Regions from separate parts of the Homo sapiens genome. Here region 1 is linked to region 2. Evidence: fine-mapped expression QTL. A gene starts in region 2. The other region holds a variant in brackets. All regions are shown on one strand. Distances are between the middles of the regions.

Region 1 (9,368 bases), 380 kb after region 2:
TTGAATTGCGTTTGCCCCATGACAAAATCAGTTAACTGTATTTATTCGGGTCTTTTGGGTTCTCTATTGTGTTCCATTTATCTTTTTGCTTATTCCGTCACCAATATCACTCTTCATTACTTTAGCTTTGTGGTAAAGATAACAATAGTAAGTTATTGTTTCTAAACGAGGACTATCTGCATTTATTTATATATTTTTTATTCCTCTCAACCATGATTCAGTTTCCTGAATGCATATTTGTTTGTCTTTTGTTAGATTTATACTCAATGAATTGAAATTTTAAAGAATATCATTTACAATAGCACACCCAAAATTTAATTCATTAAATTCAAATTATTCCTATACATTATTGGTGATATAAAAAAATCAGCTAGGGCTGGGCGCGGAGGTTCTCGCCTGTAATCCCAGCGCTTGGGTGGCTGAGGCGGGAGGATTGCTTGATCCTTGGAGGCGGAGGCTGCAGTGAGCCAAGGTCATGCCACTGCCTCTCCAGCCTGGGCTACAGAGCAAGCCTCCGTCTCTAAAATAAGAAAGAGAAAAAGAAAAAGAAAATCCATTGACCTTTGTCTACTGGCCATCTATTTTACTTGTTAAAAATCTCCATGCGTTCTGATCAAGGCATGTGATGGTGGGCTCGATTTCAGTTGAAATTTCCAAAATCATGGCCCGGAGTAATCTGGAGGCTGAATTTCAGAGATTCCCGAGGGCTGCCGCGAGGGGGCGCCCAGCCCCTGCTAAACCCGAGCGCTGCGCGCTTGAGCCGTATCTGATCCGCAAGGCGGCGTTGCGGGGCGTTTACCGTGAGGACAGAGCTTCCTCCCTCAGGACGCGGCTGGGAGAGGCTGCGGCCTCGGGAGACATGGGGACACTTGGGGCCGCGTCCACAGTGAGACAGGGAGACGCTGCTGCAGCTTCGGGACACCTGGGGCCGCCCAGGCGAAGATGAGGAAAAAGCTTCCTGTTGCCGTTGAGTGTAGCGGCGGGAGCGCGGCCGTGTTTCCCTGTCCGCCGTTTGTAGCAGGACCTCACTTTATATTAATAAAAGCGTCCCCTCATGAGGGCTTGGGCTGGTCACCCCCAGCGCAGGCCAAGATGCAGGTTATGGATGTGAGTTTGTTTCTGGGGAGAGACCCTGGTACCGGGAGAGGAGACGCGGTCAGGAGGCTGGGGACGGGAAGGCGCCACAGCCTGAGGCCGAGAAAACAGGCGCCCCCGGATCAGTGCTCGTTTTTTTTGGTTTGGTGTGTGTGTGTGTGTGTGTGCGTGTGCGCGTGCGCGTGCGTGTGTGTGTGTGTTTTGAGACCGAGTTTCGCTCTTGTTGCCCAGGCTGGAGTGCAGTGGCGCCATCTCGGCTCACTGCAACCTCCGCCTCCCAGGTTCAAGCGAGTCTACTGCCTCAGCCTTCCGAATAGCTGGAATTACAGGGACCCGCCACCACGCCCAGCTAAGTTTTTGTATTTTTAGTAGAGATGGGGTTTCACTATGTTGGCCAGGCTGGTGTCAAACTCCTGACCTCAAGTGATCCACCTGCCTTGGCTTCCCAAAGTGCTGGGATTGCAGGCAGGCCTGAGCCACCATGCCCTGCTGCTTTTTTTTTCTAAATTAAAAAAAATTTTAGGCTGTCTTTGCTTTGATAAAATACATAGGAGTATTTTGTGTGAAGTTGCTGTAACTGCTGGGGAATCTAAGAGAAGGGATAAGTTAAACTTTGCTATTGCAATAATCCTAGAAGAAGGAAATTATTGTAAATTATAAACAACCACATTAATACCTTGTCAGTAAAGCAGAGACATCAAACTTCATTATAGAGGCCAAACCAATCCAAATCCAGGTCAGTGGAAGCTGTGTACCAAGCGCCCTGCTGTCATGTCAGTATTGCGGCTGTCATATCAGTATTACAGGTGTCATATGAGTCTTAGGGGTGTCATAGTAGTACTGTGAGTGTCATCAATATTGCGGGTGTCTTGTCTGTATCGTGGGCGTCATATCACTGTTGCAGGTGTCCCATCAGTCTTATGGGCATCATATCAGCCTTATGGGTGTCATATCATTATTAAGGGTGTCATATGAGTCTTAGGAGTGTCATGAATCTTGCGGGCTTCACATCAGTTTTAAGGGTGCCATAGCAGTCTTGCCGGTATCATCTCCATTGTGAACGTCACAGCAGTGTTGTGGGTGTCATATCAGTATTACGATATGCCATGATATGTTATACCAGTATGACACCTCTTCTGAAAACAGTCATACCTAGACATAGTGCTTTGTTTGTTTGTTTGTTTGTTTGTTTGTTTGTTTTGAGACGGAGTCTCGCTGTGTCGCCCAGGCTGGAGTGCAGTGGTGTGGTGGAGTGGTGTGATCTCTGCTCACTGCAAGCTCCACCTCCCGGGTTCATGCCATTCTCCTGCCTCAGCCTCCTGAGTAGCTGAGACTGTAGTCTCAGCCACCATGCCCGGCTAATTTTTTGGCATTTTTAGTAGAGACGGGGTTTCACTGTGTGAGCCGGGATGGTCTTGATCTCCTGACCTCATGATCTGCCCGCCTCGGCCTCCCAAAGTGCTGGGACTACAGGCCGGGAGGCGGAGGTTGCAGTGAGCCGAGGTTGCACCACTGCACTGCACTCTGGGTGACAGAGCGAGACTCTGTTTTGGGGGAAAAAAAAAACTCATACATGGAAAATTCCAAAACATTGCTGAAATAAATTCAAGAAAACTTTTGGCGGAAATTCACAAGCTGATCCTATCATTTATATGAAATTTCAAGGGATGCAGAATAACCAACATAGTGTCAAAGAAACCAACTCAGAGGCTCACATTTCCAAATTTCAAATCTTACTACAAAGCAACATTAATAAAAACAACATGATTTTGGCATCATCAATGGAATAGATCAATGGAACTGAATTCTGAGTCCAGAAATAAACCCATACTCCTATGAGCAATTGTTTTATTTTTTGAGGCAGGGCCTCACTCTGTCTCCCAGGCTGGAGTGCAGTGGCACAATCATGACTCACTACAACCTCTATTTCGTGGGCTCAAGTGATCCTCCCACCTCAAACCTCCCAAGTAGCTGGGACTAGAGGTGTGCACTACCACAGCTGGCTAATTTTTTTTTTTTTTTTTCAGGTAGGGTCTTTCTCTCCTGCCCAGGCTGGCCTCAAACTCCTAGCCTCAAGTGATACTCCTCTCTTTGTCTCCCAAAGCACTGGGATTACAGGTGTTAGCTACCATGTCCAGCCTGCTGATTTTTAAAAATGGAATTTCTTTTTCCTTTCTTTTTTTCTCTGGGCATGGTTTTGCTCTGTTTCCCAGATTGGAGTGCAATGGTGCGAACGCAGCTTATTGCAGCCTCAACCACCTGGGCTCAAGCAATCCTCCCTCCTCCGTCTCCTGAGTAACTAGGACTACAGACATGCACCACCACACCTAGCTAATTTTTAAGTTATTTGTAGAGAGAGGGTTTCCCTGTGTTGCCCAGACTGGCCTGAAACTCCTGGGTACCCAGTCTCAGGTATTTATAGTGATGGGAAAAAAGCTTAATACAGAAAATTGGCACAAAGGAGTGGAAAATTGTTATAAGAATACCTGAAAATGTGGAATCAGCTTTGTAATTGGGTAAACAGGCAGAGGTTGGAAGAGTTTGTAGGATTCAGAAGAAGACAGAAAAATGAGGGAAAGTTGAGATTTTCTTAACTTTGAATGGCTTTGACGAAAATGCTGATAGTGATTTGGACGGTGAAGGCTGAGCTGAGGAGGTCTCAGATGAAAATTAGAAACTTATTAGGATCGAAGCAAAGGTCATTCATGTTGTCTTAGCAAAGTGGTTGGCTGAATTTCTGTCATGCCCTAGGGATATATAAAAGTTTGAATTTGAAAGTGATGATTTAGGGTTTCTGTTGAAAAAATGTCTAAGCACTAAAGCATTGAAGATGTGGCCTGGCTGCTTCTAACAACCTATGCTCACATGTTGGAGCAAAAAAAAGTAAGTTGTAATTTATTTTTACTTGCAAGGGAAGTATAGCGTAAAAGCTTAAAAACTTTGCAGCCTACTCATGTGGCAGAAAAATAAAAAGCTTTTACAAGAGAGGAACTCGAGCAGGCTGTGGAGCAATCACTTGTTAGAGATATTTGTATAACTTAAAAAAAAAAAAAAGCAAGTGTTGATAGCCAAGACAATGGGGAAGAGGAATTGAAGGCATTTTAGAAATCTAAAAGGCAGCCCCCCATCACAGACCCTGAGGCCTAAAAGAAGAGAATAGTTTCTGGGATCAGGCCCAGGAACTGCTGCCTTGGGTAGCCTTAGAACATGGCTCCCTGCATCCTGGCCACTGCTCCAGCTCCAGATGTAGCACAAATTGGCCCAGTTAAAACTCCAGTCACTGCTTCAGAGGGTGCAAGCCTTAAGCCTTGGTAGCTTTCATATGGTGTTAGGCCTGTGAGTGTACAAAATGCAAGAGCTGAGACTTGGGAGCCTCCACCTTTACTTCAAATAATGTATAAAAAAGCTAGGGTGTGCAGGCAGAAGCATGCTGCAAGGGTGGAGCCCTCATGGAGAACCTCTACTAAAACAATGCAGCAAAGAAATGTAGGGTTACAATCCCCATGTGGGTTCCCCACTGGGGCATGGCCTAGTAGATCTGTGAGGAGAGGATCACTGTCCTCCAGATCCCAGAATGGTAGATCTAGCTACAGCTTGCACTTTGCACATGGAAAAGCCAGAAGCAGACAAAACCAGCCAGAGGCAC[G/A]CAATACCAGCCCATGAGAGCAGCTGTGGGGGCTGAACCATGCAAAGCCACAAGGTCTAAACGTCCCAAGGCATTAGTGTGCCCTGGAAATGGGACATAGAGTCAAAAATAATTATTTTGGAGCCTTAAAATTCAATAACTCCCCTTCTGGGCTTCAGACTTGTATGGGTCCTGTGGCCTCTTTTTTTTTTAGCTGATTTCTTCCTTTTAGAATAGGAGTATTTACCCAATGCCTATGCCCCATTTGTATCTTGGAAGCACTTAATTTGTTTTTTATTTTACAGGCTTATAGGAAGAATAAACTAGCTTTGTCTTAGATGAGACTTTTGACTTTTGAGTTAAGGCTGAAATGAGTGAAGACTTTGGGGATTATTGGGATGTCATGATTATATTTTGAAATATGAGAAGGATATGAGATTTGGAATGGCCAGGGGCAAAATGATATAGTTTAGGTGTGTGTTCGCACCAAATTCTTATATTAAAATGTAATCCTCAATGTTGGAAGTGGGCCTAGTGGGGAGGTGATTGAATCATGAGGGCAGGATTTCCATGAACAGTTTGGCATCATTTTCTTTGGTGCCATTCTCACAATAGTAAGTTTTCATGAGAGCTGGTTATCTACAAGTGTGTAGCACTTCCCCCCACCCTCACACTTACCATGTGATGTGCAAGCACCGGATTTATTTTTCACCTTGATTGTCAGTTGTCAGAGGCTTCACCAGAAGCAGAAGCCAGTGCTATGCTTTCTGTACAGCCTGTAGAACCATGAGCCAATTAAACCTATTTCCTTTATAAATTAACCAGTCACCGACTGTTTTTACAGCAATGTGAGAATGGCGTAATATTTCCGTCAAAAAACTGTTAGAAGTAATAACTTGAGTAAATTTGCAGAATACAAAATTAACATATACAAATCAGTAAGATTTCTATATGCCAACAGTCAACAAACTGAAAAAGAATTCAAAAAAGTAATCCTATTTGCAATAGCCACAAATAAAACAAAATGTGTGGGAATTTACCAAAGAAATAAAAGTTCTCAACAATTAAAAATGTAAAACACTGATAAAAGAAATGAAAGAGAAGACAAAAAAATGGAAAGTTATTTCTATGTTCACAGATTGGAAGAATCAGTATTTTAAAAAATGTCCATACGATCCAAAGCAATCTATACATTTCATGCCATCTCTATCAAAATAACAATGACATTCCTCACAGAAATAGAAAAAAAATCTGAAATATATATGGAACCACAAAACACCATAATAGTCAAAGCTATTCTGAGTATATAAACTAAAACTGGAGGAATCCCATTACATGGTTTTAAATTGTACTATCAAGCTATAGTAATTAAAACAGCATGACACTAGAATAAAAAGACATAAAGACAAATGGAATGAAACAGAGAACTTAGAAACAAACTCATACAGCTAAACTAATTTTCAACAAAATTGTCAATAACATACAACAAAAAACAAGACAGTTTCTGTAATAAATAGGGCTGGGAAAACTGGCAAGCCATAGGCAGAAGAATGAAACTAGAACCCTATTTCTTGCAAAATACAAAAATCAAATTAAAATGAATTAAGGACTTAAACCTAACACCTCAAACTATCAAAATTTTACAAGAAAACACTGGGGAAACTCTTTAGGGCATTGGTTTGGGCAAAAATTTCTTAAATAATGCCCCATAAGCACAGACAACCAAAGCAAACATGGACAAATGGAATTACAGCAAGTCAGAAAGCTTTTTTAAAGTGAAGGAAACAATAAACAAAGTGAAGAGAAAACCCACAGAATGGAAGAAAATATTTGTAAATTACCCATCTGAAAAGCAATTAATAGCTACATGATATGGTTAGGCTTTGTGTCCCCACCCAAATCTCATATTGAATTGTAATCCCCAGGTGTTGAAGGAGAGACCTGGTAGAAGGTGATTGGATCATGGGGTTGGTTTCCCCCAGGCTGTTCTTCTGATAATGAGTGAGTTCTCATGAGATCCGATGGTTTTATAAGGGGCTCTTCCACCTTTGCTTCACATACATGCTCTCTCGCCTGCCATCATGGAAGAGGTGCCTGCTTCCCGTCTGCCATGATTTTAAGTTTCCTGAGGCCTCCCCAGCCATGTGGAACTGTGACTCAGTTAAACCTATCTCCTTTATAAATTGCCCAGTCTCGCCAGGCGCAGTGGCGCATGCCTGTAATCCCAGCACTTTGGGAGGCTGCGGCGGGTGGATCACGAGGTCAGGAGTTCAAGACCAGCCTGGCCAAGATGGTGAAACCCCATCTCTACTAAAAATACAAAACTTAGCTGGGCATGGTGTTAGGTGCCTGTAATCCCGGCTACTCAAGAGGCTGAGGCAGAGAATTGCTTGAACCCAGGAGGTGGAGGTTGCAGTGAACCGAGATCATACCAGTGCACTCCAGCCTGGGCGACAGAGCAAGACTTCATGTGAATACATAAATAGATAAATAACCCAGTCTCAGTTTTTTTATAGCAGTGCAGAAACAGACTAATACACTACAATATATTGAAGTGAAAAGCTGCTCCACATTACTGATCATTATAGAAATGCAAATCAAACCCAAAATGAGATATCATTTCACCTCAGTTAAGGTGGCTTTTATCCAGAAGTCAGTCAAAAACAAATGTTGCTAATAGCCAAGATTTGGAAGAAACCTAAATGTCCATCAGCAGATGACTGGATAGAGAAAATGTGGTACATATATACAATGGAGTACTATTCAGCTATAAGAAAGAATGAGAGTCTGTCATTTGCAGTAACAGAAATGGAACTGAAAGTCTTTATGTTAAGTAAGTCAGGCACAGAAAGAAAAATGTCACATGTCCTCACTTATTTGTGGGTGCTAAAATTTGAAATAATTGATGTCATAGAGAGTATAAGGGTGGTTACCAGAGTCTGGGAAGGGCAGTGGGGGAACAGGGGGTTAGTGGGGATGTGAAATGGGTACAAAAAATTGTTAGAAAGAATGAACAAGACAGTATTTGATAGCACAACAGGGTGATTATGGTAAAAAAAATTTTAATTATACATTTTATAAAAACTAAAATAGTATAATTGGATTGTTTATAACACAAGCTATAAATGCTTGAGAGGACGGATACCCTGTTTTTTATTATGTATTACTCATTACATGCCTGTATCAAAGTATGTCATGTACCCCCATAAATATATACACCAACTATGTACCCATAAAAATTAAAAATTACAATTAAAACCAAAGGGAGGAGAGTCTAATGAGGCAGGTGTGACCCATGGCTTGAACTAGCTTTTCAGGGTAACTTTGGAACGTTTTTATCCAAGAAGAGGGGTCCATTTAGTCAATAGGGGCTTAGAAATTAATTTTTAGTTTGTAAGTGGAAAAAAGAGAATTTTTAATCCTGAGCCATAGCTCTCAGTCAGTCAGTCCCTGCAGGGAACCCTGTTCTTTACTCTGGAGATAAACACTATTTTTCTTTTCCACTGAATAACACCACATTTCAAAATGAGGGGAAACATCTTGAAACTAAGAGGTATGGCCTTATTAAATTTGATTTGGTTTCCATTGTAATTAATTTAATCACATGTGTTCTAGAGTTTGTCCTCAGTCTTCTACTTTAGGCTCATGATCTGTTGAATTTGCTCAGCTCCCTGCTCAACAGCAGGAAATCAGAATTATTTAAAAGCCTCATTGTGGCTGGGAGCAGTAGCTCATGCCTGTAATCCCAGCAATTTGGGAGGCCAAGGTGGGCAGATCACTTGTTGTCAGGGGTTTGAGACCAGCCTGGCCAACAGAGTGAAACCCCATTTCTACTAAAGATACAAAAATTAGCTGGGTGTGGTGATTCATGCCTGTAATCCCAGCTACTTGGGAGGCTGAGGCAGGAGAATCACTTGAACCTGGGAGGCGGAGGTTTCAGTAAGGCAAGATGGTGCACTGCACTCCAGCCTGGGCAGTAGAACAAGACTCTGTCTCAAAATAATAATAATAAATAAAAATAAAAATCTCATTGTGTTTCAAACAAAATTTCTTTTGCATATCAACTGTGTCAGCTTGCATATTAACTATAATCATTTTGTTTACTTTATATCCAATCTTGAGAAATCTCTGAGGACTAATTTCACTCTTTTCTGCCATTTTGGTAAACATACCAAATGCCATCAAATAAAATGCACAAAATTCCTGAGAAATACATTTTCTCCTTGAGGAGTAGACTTGCTGTGTTAGAGGAACTCATGGTTATCAAGCTTCCAGTTTAATAAACATGACTAGAATTCTCTATCTTAATATGAGTAGCTAGGTACTCACAAGGCATCTAGAAGGTTAATACCTATAGTCTGAAAATAGCCACATTTTTTTACTGGCCACAAATTACAATTGCAGAATATTTATGGCCATACAAGACATCTTCCACCAAGCCTGAAAAATGTATAAATATCCTAGGAGTGCAGCATTTTTTGTTAAAGATAATATTAATGAGCTAGCTTAGGTCAACGGGTTAATGGTCATCGTTAAAACGAATAGACCCGACTTTAATGAGTACATCTGCACCTTCCAAGTTTAATTATAACTCTTTCTCTTTATAGTTAGAGTAGAGACACTAACAAAAGACAATGCATTCCTGCTC
Region 2 (9,045 bases):
GAGGACCCCCAAGTCCTGAGCCCCGTACTCCGTACTGCAGGGAGCAGGCCAGGAGCCACGGGCCTTGGGGCACAGGGTCCTTCTCAGGGACAGGTTCAGGCACTGGCTGGAACAGGCTGGACCCCTCTACCCAGCACATGTGGGCATGCGTCTGGGTTCCGAGGGTGGGGAAATGTGGAAAGGCTCCTGCTGGCCGGCTTAGGCCTGCTGCCCTTGGAGCCTTCCATATACAGAGAGTCCCACCTCCAGCAAGGGTTGGCCTGGACTCTCCAACCCCCTGCTGTGCCCAGGACTCCCCCAGGGACAAGGCAACCAGAGGCCCAGACCCCTCCCCAGCAAAGAGAAGCACCACGGGAGCTGTCTCCCAAGAGCCCTTGACCTGGGGCCCAGCTGGCCTAGGGCCGGGCCCCGGGGCTGTTGTAGAGCAGAGTGTCCATCTGTGCACGCTGTAGCCACAAGCGCCGCTGGGCGTCGCCAAGCAGCACACGCAGCGAGTGGCCTGGACGGCAGGCGGGCAGGGCTGCACAGTGGGCAGCATGCAGCTGGCGACAGGTGTCGCAGCAGAGGGTGGGCAGGGCGCCAGGGGACAGGCAGCTGTGTGCCTGGTAGCCTGGGGGCTCCGAGACAGACCTATAGGCTGAGGCTGGTACCCCCTCTGCCCGAATACGCCTCGGGCTGGCCGCTGCAGAGCTTTCAGGGGTGGCCAGGTCCCCAGGCCTACTCAGCTCACGGCGCAGAGAGAGGAAGGAGAAGGCGGAAGGTTCAGGTTCCAGCCCCTCCTCCAAGGCCCCATATGGTGGGCTGCTGGCCTGCGGCAGCTCCTCAGCTGGGGGCTCCCAGGCCCGGCCCCCAGTGCCCCACAGTTTGGCACTCTGCTCCCAGAGTGGTGGCCTGTAGGCCAGCTCCGCCGGGGGCGAGTCAGGGCCTGGTGACGGCTCCCCATACAGGCTGGCGTCCTCCGACCCCTCGTCTTCCTGCAAGTCCCGGTATAAGTCCAGTGGGGCCCTGTAAGCAGCAGGGGAGCCTCGGGGGGGCAGGGGTGGCGGCTCCTCATCCTGGGCCAGCCGCTGCTGCAGCCAGGCCACACAGGAGGCCACGTCCCCGCTGGCACGCCGTGCCTGCAGCAGCTCCTCAGCTGGCAGCACACTGGTGCCCAGCTGGGCCAGCACCTCACCCAGGATCTCACACTCCAGCCGGAGGGCGAAGCAGCCCAGGGCCACCTGCACCAGCTGGCAGGCGGGGGGCAGGGCGGTCACCATGAGCCGATGGCTGTCTCTGCGTACGTAGCCCATCTTCTGGAAGCTCTTCAGGAGGAGGTCGTCTGAGAGCACACCCTTCAGCACGTGCACGTAGCCCCCAGAGAAGGTCTGCAAGGGAGCGGCCAGGTCAGTGACTGCCCACCCTCCCATAGGCCAGACCCTAGGGTACAGTGGGTCCGGGATCTGTTGGCTCAGGCCTTGGCAGCTTCTGATGCTCAGACCCAACCCCAGAGACTAGGCTTAGCCAGCTTGGGCCAGGCCCAAACATGATGATTTCTTTTTTTTTTTTTTTTTTTTTTTTTTTTTGAGACAGAGTCTTGCTCTGTCATCCAGGCTGGAGTGCAGTGGCTCCATCTCAGCTCACTGCAGCCTCTGCGTCCCAGGTTCAAGCAAGTTCCCCTGCCTCAGCCTCCCGGGTAGCTGGGACTACAGGCGCCCACCACCACACCCGGCTAATTTTCATATTTTTAGTAGAGACAGGGTTTCACCATGTTGGCCATGCTGGTCTCAAACTCCTGACCTCAAGTGATCCGCCTGCCTTGAGCTCCCAAAGTGCTGGGATTACAAGCGTGAGCCACTGTGCCCGGCCTAGAATTTTTTTTTTTTTTTCTTTTTTGAGACAGAGTCTCGCTCTGTCTGGAGTACAGTGGCACGATCTCGGCTCACTACAACCTCCTCCTCCCGGGTTCAAGCGATCTTCCTGCCTCAGCCTCCTGAGTAGCTGGGATTACAGGTGCGCACCACCACGCCCCACTAATTTTTGTATATTTAGTAGAGACGGGGTTTCACCATGTTGACCAGGAAGGTCTTGATCCCTTGACCTCATGATCCACCCACCTTGGCCTCCCGAAGTGCTGGGATTACAGGTGTGAGCCACCGCACCTGGCCGAATTTCTTAAATTTAATGGAAAAAACAATGAATACATTAACCTAGCTCACAAATCAGAACAAAATGAAGAGCCCCTGTACTGAGAAATTCCACTGTCTTCTGTCCCACCGCTCCCTTCACCCCTGGAGATGGCCTCATCTAATTAGTTTTGAATGTACTTGCCCAGGTGTTTGTTTTGCAAACCCAAATACAGATTTCGTTTGCTCCTCGTATGAGGTAGTCCCCCCTTTTTTTTCACCTCTTTGTAAGGTCTCTAACCAAAGCTAGACAGGTAGCCTCTTAAACGTGTTGTTCTGAACTTTGTTTTTTTCCACTACAGTCTTGCAGACAAGGACAGAAGCTGTAACGTTCATTCCCCCTGCTGTGTAGTATTCCACCATGGGGGTGACACGTCTGTTTTCAGCGCTCTCCAGAGGCTGTCCATGCACTGGGCTGACAGCCGTGGGACGGTAGAAGGGTGAGTGCTCTTTTTTTTTTTTTTTTGAGACGGAGTCTCACTCTGTCACCAGGATGGAGTGCAGTGGCTCGATCTCTGCTCACTACAACCTCCACCTCCCAGGTTCAAGTGATTCTCCTCCCTCAGCCTCCTGAGTAGCTGGGATTACAGGCGCGTGCCACCACACCCAGCTCATTTTTGTATTTTTTAATAGAGACGGGGTTTCACCATGTTGGTTAGGCTGGTGTCAATCTCCTGACCTCGTGATCTGCCCACCTCGGCCTCCCAAAGAGCTGGGATTACAGGCGTGAGCCACCGCGCCCGGCCTGGCTGAGTGCTTTCTAGCCTACACTTAGGTGAAGAACTAAAGGAGCTCAGGACAATCACTGCGAGCGTCTCCTGACTCTCAAATTCCCTAACTCCGGGACTCCTAGCATCTAATGCCTGGACACGGCCCACGTGTGGAGCGCCCAGTGCCTGCAGCACTGAGCTCGGGGCTTTGATTCATTCCTCTGGCCCCATGAACTGGACTGTTCCCGTGTCGCTGTCTCAGGAGGAAAGGGGCTGACAGAGATTAGCTAATTTGGCCAAGTCCTCGCGGCCAGGAAGCAGCAGAACTAAGTCCAAACCAGGGCTGTCCGGCACTGAAGCCGGTTATTCCCCCGCCCCGCCCCCTGGGAGGCCTCAAGGGCGGGCCTGTCCGTCCTCTCTCATGAATGAAAGTCCTGGCGCCTCCGACCAGCAGGTGTCCCCGGGGAGCCGCGGAGAGACTGCCGCTGCCATGGCAACCGGCGGAGGCGTAGCTCGCCCACGTGCCCAGTGACGTCATCGGCTTCCTACTCTTCCGAATTAGCTCAGAGCTCCCGGCGGCCCTGCCCCCTCCTGCCGCCAGGAGCTCACCTGGAGAGGCCAGGCCAGCCCTGGGCACAGCCTCCCGCCCCAGGCCGTGGAGTTCACTAGGTCTGAGCCCAGCCCTGAGACTTCACAGGGATGCACCCATCTGCAGTCCTCCCAGCCTCGGCGGCCTCCTCTGCAAATGGGATTGGCCCATAACCTGGAGGAATTAGGATGACCATGGGAACTCAAGTCCCTTCTGTGCCCCCGTCCTAAGATTTCCATGGCAACTGGGGCCGCGAGGCCTCTTAGGGAAGACACTGACGCAAGCTCTCAGGGCAGGACCCCGTAGGCAGCACCCAAGCCTGCCCTCGCCCACCCCATGTTCTCAGCCCTAGGAGTGGGTGCCCCCACACGCCCACGACCCCTCAGCGCTCGGAGCCTTGAGGAGCCCACCAGGCACTGAGGACACTTGAAGCCCCTCTCTCTCGAAAGGCGTGGTCCCCCATGGTCGGCGGCCCCGCGACCCGCAGGCCAGGACGAGGGGCGCGCTCCTCCTGGCCTGGCGCCTACCTTGATGGTGGTGAACTCCTTCCTCCAGGGCAGCAGGTACAGGTGCACCGCGGCGAGCTCCAGAAGCTCGAAGGCGCGAGCCAGGCCGCGTAGCGCGGGCGCCAGGTCGGCGCGGCCCCACAGCCCGTCGGTGAGCAGAGCCAGCGCGTCGTCCTGCAGCGCCCCGTGCAGGTCGAAGTCCTCCACCAGGATCTGCCAGAGCACCGCGCGCAGCGAGGGGTCCCCGCACACGCCCGCGCGGCCCCGTCGCAGCTCGCGCTCCAGGCACTGGCGGTAGTCCTCGGACAGCGAGCTGCTGCCCATCCTGCGGCGGACGGGGGTCGGGGGGGTCAGGGACCTAAGGCCGCGCCCAGCCCGCCGCGCTCTCCCCGAACCCTCACCCAGCGTCCCCAGGACCCCTCGAGCCTGGAGACCCCGCCCCCAGCGGCTGGGCGCCCCCGGTATCTTCGGCACCCCCTACGCTGGAGACCTCGGCCCCATCAGCTGCCCGCCCACCCAGCGATCCAGGCCCCTCCAGTTGAGCGCCCCCGCACCTCCAGCCCCTCCCTCCAGCCTGGGTACCTCGGCCTTCCAGGGGCGCCCCCGGTTATCGACCGCACCCTTCTCTAGAGACGCGCTTCCGCCCGCTGAGCCCTCTCCCGACCAGAGCCCCTTCGCCCGGCAGATGGAGCTGCGGATCCCGCGGGTGACGGCGCTACCTGTCTGTCCCCAGCGGTCTCCGGCCGCCGCGGATCAGTTCGGGCCTCCCCGCGCGCCGCGCGCTTCCGCCGGGAGTCGGCTCCGCCCGGGGTCCGCGGCCGTGACGCTGGGGGCGGGGCGGGGCTTGGCGCAGGCCCCGCCTCCGAATAATTTAGGAGGGGCGGGGCCTGGTGAAAGGGGAGGAGGAGGTGTCAGCCCGGCCGAGCCCCTGCGCGAGGCACCCCGAGAGCCTCCTGTCACCGCGTCGCCCGTCTCCTCGCGGGACCGGTATCGTTCACGACGCCGCTGGGCCGAGGGCTGCGGGCTCATGGCAGGCGCTCAGGGAACGTTGTGCCTGGGCCGCTCCTCCCCACGAGACAGGGACCCAGCCCCAGGCGACCCGGCCGCGGGGAAGCAGGTGCGCGGGCTCGTCCCCTGGGGGGTGGGGCCACCGGCATTACCTGGCGGGGATTGGCTGGATCCTGGGAAGAGCCTTTCCTGCGGGGCGGGGCCACCTGCATTACCTGGCGGGGATTGGCCGGATCCGGGGGCGGGCCTCCCCTGTGGGGCGGGGCCATCCCCTTGAGGGAGGGGCCCGCGGCACGGAAGGTGGGCGGAAGGACAAGCCTTTCAGCCTCGTCTGAAACAGCAGCCTCAGGTGGATGCGGGGACCTCAGATTCTGTTTATGCTGGCTCCGCTTCCCGGCCTCCTGCACTTGCCATCTGCAGCCCTTGAGAGCATCGTCTGGGCGGGTCTCTGAGGCAGGGCGAAGCCGCCCCCCTCTCTAGGCTAAAAGCTGACCTGGGCTGCGGATCCACCCAGGCTAAATCTGGGCCACGACTTCCCGGGGACGTTTTCTTCGCTCGGGTTCCTCTGTTCTGTGCTACAGCCACTTTCTCGCATTGCCCAGAAGTAGAGGAGGATGAGGGAGACCCTTGGAGGTCCCAGCCGAAACCCACCCCTACCCCACACCCCCGCTTTGGGCAGGCTTTGCTACTTCACGTCTGTGTCCCTCATCTCTCCAGGCCACCAAAACCAAGGCCCAAGTTTGTTGAAACTTTCCCTGGGCCTGGGCGGCGAGGTCCCCCCTTTTTCTTAGATTTTTTACCTGGAAGTTCCCTGCTGGCATCTTAGAAATAGTGATCATGACCGGGTGCGGTGGCTCACGCCTGTAATCCCAGCACTTTGAGAGGCCGAGGCGGGCGGATCACCTGAAGTCAGGAGTTCAAGACCAGCCTGGCCAACATGGTGAAACCCCGTCTCTATTAAAAATACGAAAGTTAGCCGGGCGTGGTGGCACATGTCTGTAAGCCCAGCTACTTGGGAGGCTGAGGCAGGAGAATTACTTGAACCTGGGAGGCAGAGGTTGCGGTTGCAGTGAGCTAAGATCGTGCCACTGCACTCCAGCCTGGGTGACAGAGCGAGAATGTCTGGAAAAAAAAATCGTGATGCAGTCGGTGGATCTCCCTGAGTTATCTAGGTGGCCACCTCTGGACAGGGAGCTCTTTTACTTACTGTTTACTGAACTCACTCTTGGTGCCCAGTGCCACCATGGGTCCACACCAGTCCTCAGGACAGCTAACTTCGTAAGTCTCATCTTTATTCTTCTTCTGATGCGGAGGAGGGTGGAGGTAACTGTTCTGCCTTTGTCCTCACTGAATTTGGCAACACCAGTCCATCCATCCAGCAGTGGGCCTAGCTCTCCTCCCATAGGCCTGGGTGGGTTTTTGCACCTGCCTCAACCCATGGAATAGAACTGATGTGGAATGAATTCCAAGGCTAAATCATAAACATGCCATACCCTGGCCTTGTCTTGAGATCCTTGGCCTCTGACATGGTTTGGTTCTGTATCCACACCCAAAATCTCATCTTGAATTGTAATCCCACAGGTCTGGAGCAGGACCAGGTGGAGATAATTAAATCTTGGGGGCAGCTTCCTCCATGCTGTTCTCGTGATAGTGAATTCCACGAGATCCGATGGTTTTATAAGGGGTTCTCCCCTTTGTTCAGTGCTCATTCTCGCTCCTGTCGCCCTGTGAGGAGACGCCTTCTGCCATGATTGTGAGTTTGCTGAGGCCTTCCCCAGCCATGCGGAACTGTGAGTCAATTAAACGTCTTTTCTTTATAAATTATCCAGCCTCAGGCAGCTATTTACAGCAGCATGGGGACGGACTAACACACCCTCAGAACCCAGCCACTAGAGTGAGAAGGCCACGGCCGTGTGCAGAGCTTTTGGCCTGCAACTTCGACCTGCGACTCACATTCACCTGCAGCCTATTCTTGGGACTTTTTTGGAAATAGTTTTTCCAGACAAAAATCAAGATGAGTTTGTTCTGGGCCGAGCGCAGTGGCTCACGCCTGTAATCCCAGCACTCTGGAAGACCGAGGCAGGTGGATCACGAACTCAGGAGATCGAGACCATCCTGGCTAACACACTGAAACCCCATCTCTACTAAAAAATACAAAAAATTAGCTGGGCGTGGTGGCGGGCATCTGTAGTCCCAGCTACTCGGGAGACTGAGGCAGGAGAATGGCGTCAACCCAGGAGGCGGAGCTTGCAGTGAGCCGGGATCGCGCCACTGCACTCCAGCCTGGGCCACAGAGCAAGACTCTATCTCAAAAAAAAAAAAAAAAAAAGGATGAGGTTGTTCTGGGTTGGCATGGGCCCTCAATCCAGTATGACTGCTGTCCTTATGAGGAGAGAGAAACTTAGATATGAACGCACAGGAGAGAAGACCGCTTAAAGACGGAGGCAGAGTGGAACGAGGGTGCCGTGAGCGAAGGTAACACAGCTGTGTTAGAGCCACCAGAAACTGGAGGCAAACAGAATTCTACCCTAAAGCCTCCAGAGGGAGTCAGCCCTGCTGACAGCTTGATTTTGACTTCAGGCCTGCAAGATGGTGAGAGAGAACATTTCTGTTGCTGTAAGCCACCCATTTTGTGGTCGTTTTGGCAGCCCCTGGCAACACATCCAGTCCTCACGTCGTCGTTCCGACAGCCCTGAATGAGGTCCCAGCCGACAGCTGGCACCAACCATAGACAGCAGACAGCTCTTCGGATGAATCCAACCCCTGGTCATTGGGTTACCACCTAGAAACAGCCTCCCATGATGCTGAGGAGCCATCTGGCTGATTTTTGTACTTTTTGTATTTTCAGCAGAGACAGGGCTTCACTATGTTGGCCAGGCTGGTCTCAAACTCCTGACCTCAGGTGATCCACCTACCTCGGCCTCCCACAGTGCTGGGATTGCAGGCGTGAGCCACGGTGCCCAGCCTAATTTTTAACTTTTTAGTAGAGAGGGGGGCCTTACTATGTTGCCCAGGCTGGTCTCAAACTCCTGGGCTCAAGTGATCCCCCCGCCTCAGCCTTCCGAAGTGCTGGGATTCCAGGTGTGAACCACCATGCCTGGCGTCTTGAGTATTTAAGCCCCTGAGTTGGGGTAGTTTGTTAGGCAGCGGTGGCTACGTGGGCTGTACACATTCACGGCTCCCTCCCTTCCTGCCCGGGGATGGACACTCCATGAGCTGCCGTGTGGATTCTCCGTCCTTCCCTGCCCTCCCGGGACAGACACTCCATTGCCTCCACTGCATATACATCCTCTAAAACCGGCAGCAGCCTTGCCAGGTCGGAGGTTCCGTCCACACTTACCTGGACTCCAGGACTGCACCTGGTCCCCTGGGGCCACTGCCGTGTCCACCCCACAGTGTGCGTGAGCTCCCTCCCCCTCCTGTACTCAGCATCGTCCAGCTTCCTCATCTTCTCCGGTCCAATGGATATAAGGTTACATCTTGTTTACTTTTCATTTGATTTTTGTTATGATTTGGACACTGCTTATGCAGAATAGTTTTATTTTTATTTTTTTTTAGATGGAGTCTCGCTCTGTGCTCAGGCTGGAGTACAATGGCGTGATCTCGGCTCACTGCAGCCTCTGCCTCTCAGGTTCAAACAATTCTCCGGCCTCAGCCTCCTGAGTAACTGGGACTACCGCCACCACGCTCAGCTAATTTATGTATTTTTAGTAGAGACGGGGTTTCGCCATGTTGGCCGGGCTGGTCTCGAACTCCTGACCTCAAAAGAGCCGTCCGCCTCGGCTTCCCAAACCGCTGGGGTTACAGGCATGAGCCACTGCGCCCAGCCATTACTTTTTATTTTATTTTTATTTTTTGAGACGGAGTTTCTCTCTGTCGTCCAGGCTGGAGTGCAGTGGCACGATCTCAGCTCACTGCAACCTCTGCCTCTCAGGTTCACGCCATTCTCCCGCCTCAGCCTCCCGAGTAGCTGGGACTACAGGTGCGGGCCACCACGCCCGGCTGATTTTTTGTATTTTTAGTAGAGACGGGGTTTCACCGTGTTAGCCAGGATGGTCTTGATCTCC

The links. PIP is the estimated chance that this variant, and not a neighbour inherited with it, causes the effect.
Region 1: its variant is the best candidate, but not a certain one, in a credible set for the expression of SPATA2L in amygdala (GTEx, PIP 0.50).

Annotation. Positions count from the first base shown.
Region 1 is chr16:90,081,375-90,090,742 of GRCh38, forward strand. No RefSeq gene overlaps it. Among named protein-coding and RNA genes, the nearest start is that of PRDM7, 8.7 kb to the left of the region's middle. RefSeq lists enhancers at 530-1,185, 984-1,113, 1,186-1,840. The variant G/A (reference allele first, on the strand shown) is at 4,742.
Region 2 is chr16:89,696,939-89,705,983 of GRCh38, forward strand. It overlaps SPATA2L (spermatogenesis associated 2 like), which reads right to left and starts at 4,767. Exons shown (of 3, transcript NM_152339.4): 1 at 4,690-4,767; 2 at 3,992-4,295; 3 at 1-1,367. The coding sequence starts at 4,294. The coding sequence ends at 396. RefSeq lists an enhancer at 2,505-3,370 and silencers at 4,373-4,472, 4,643-5,362.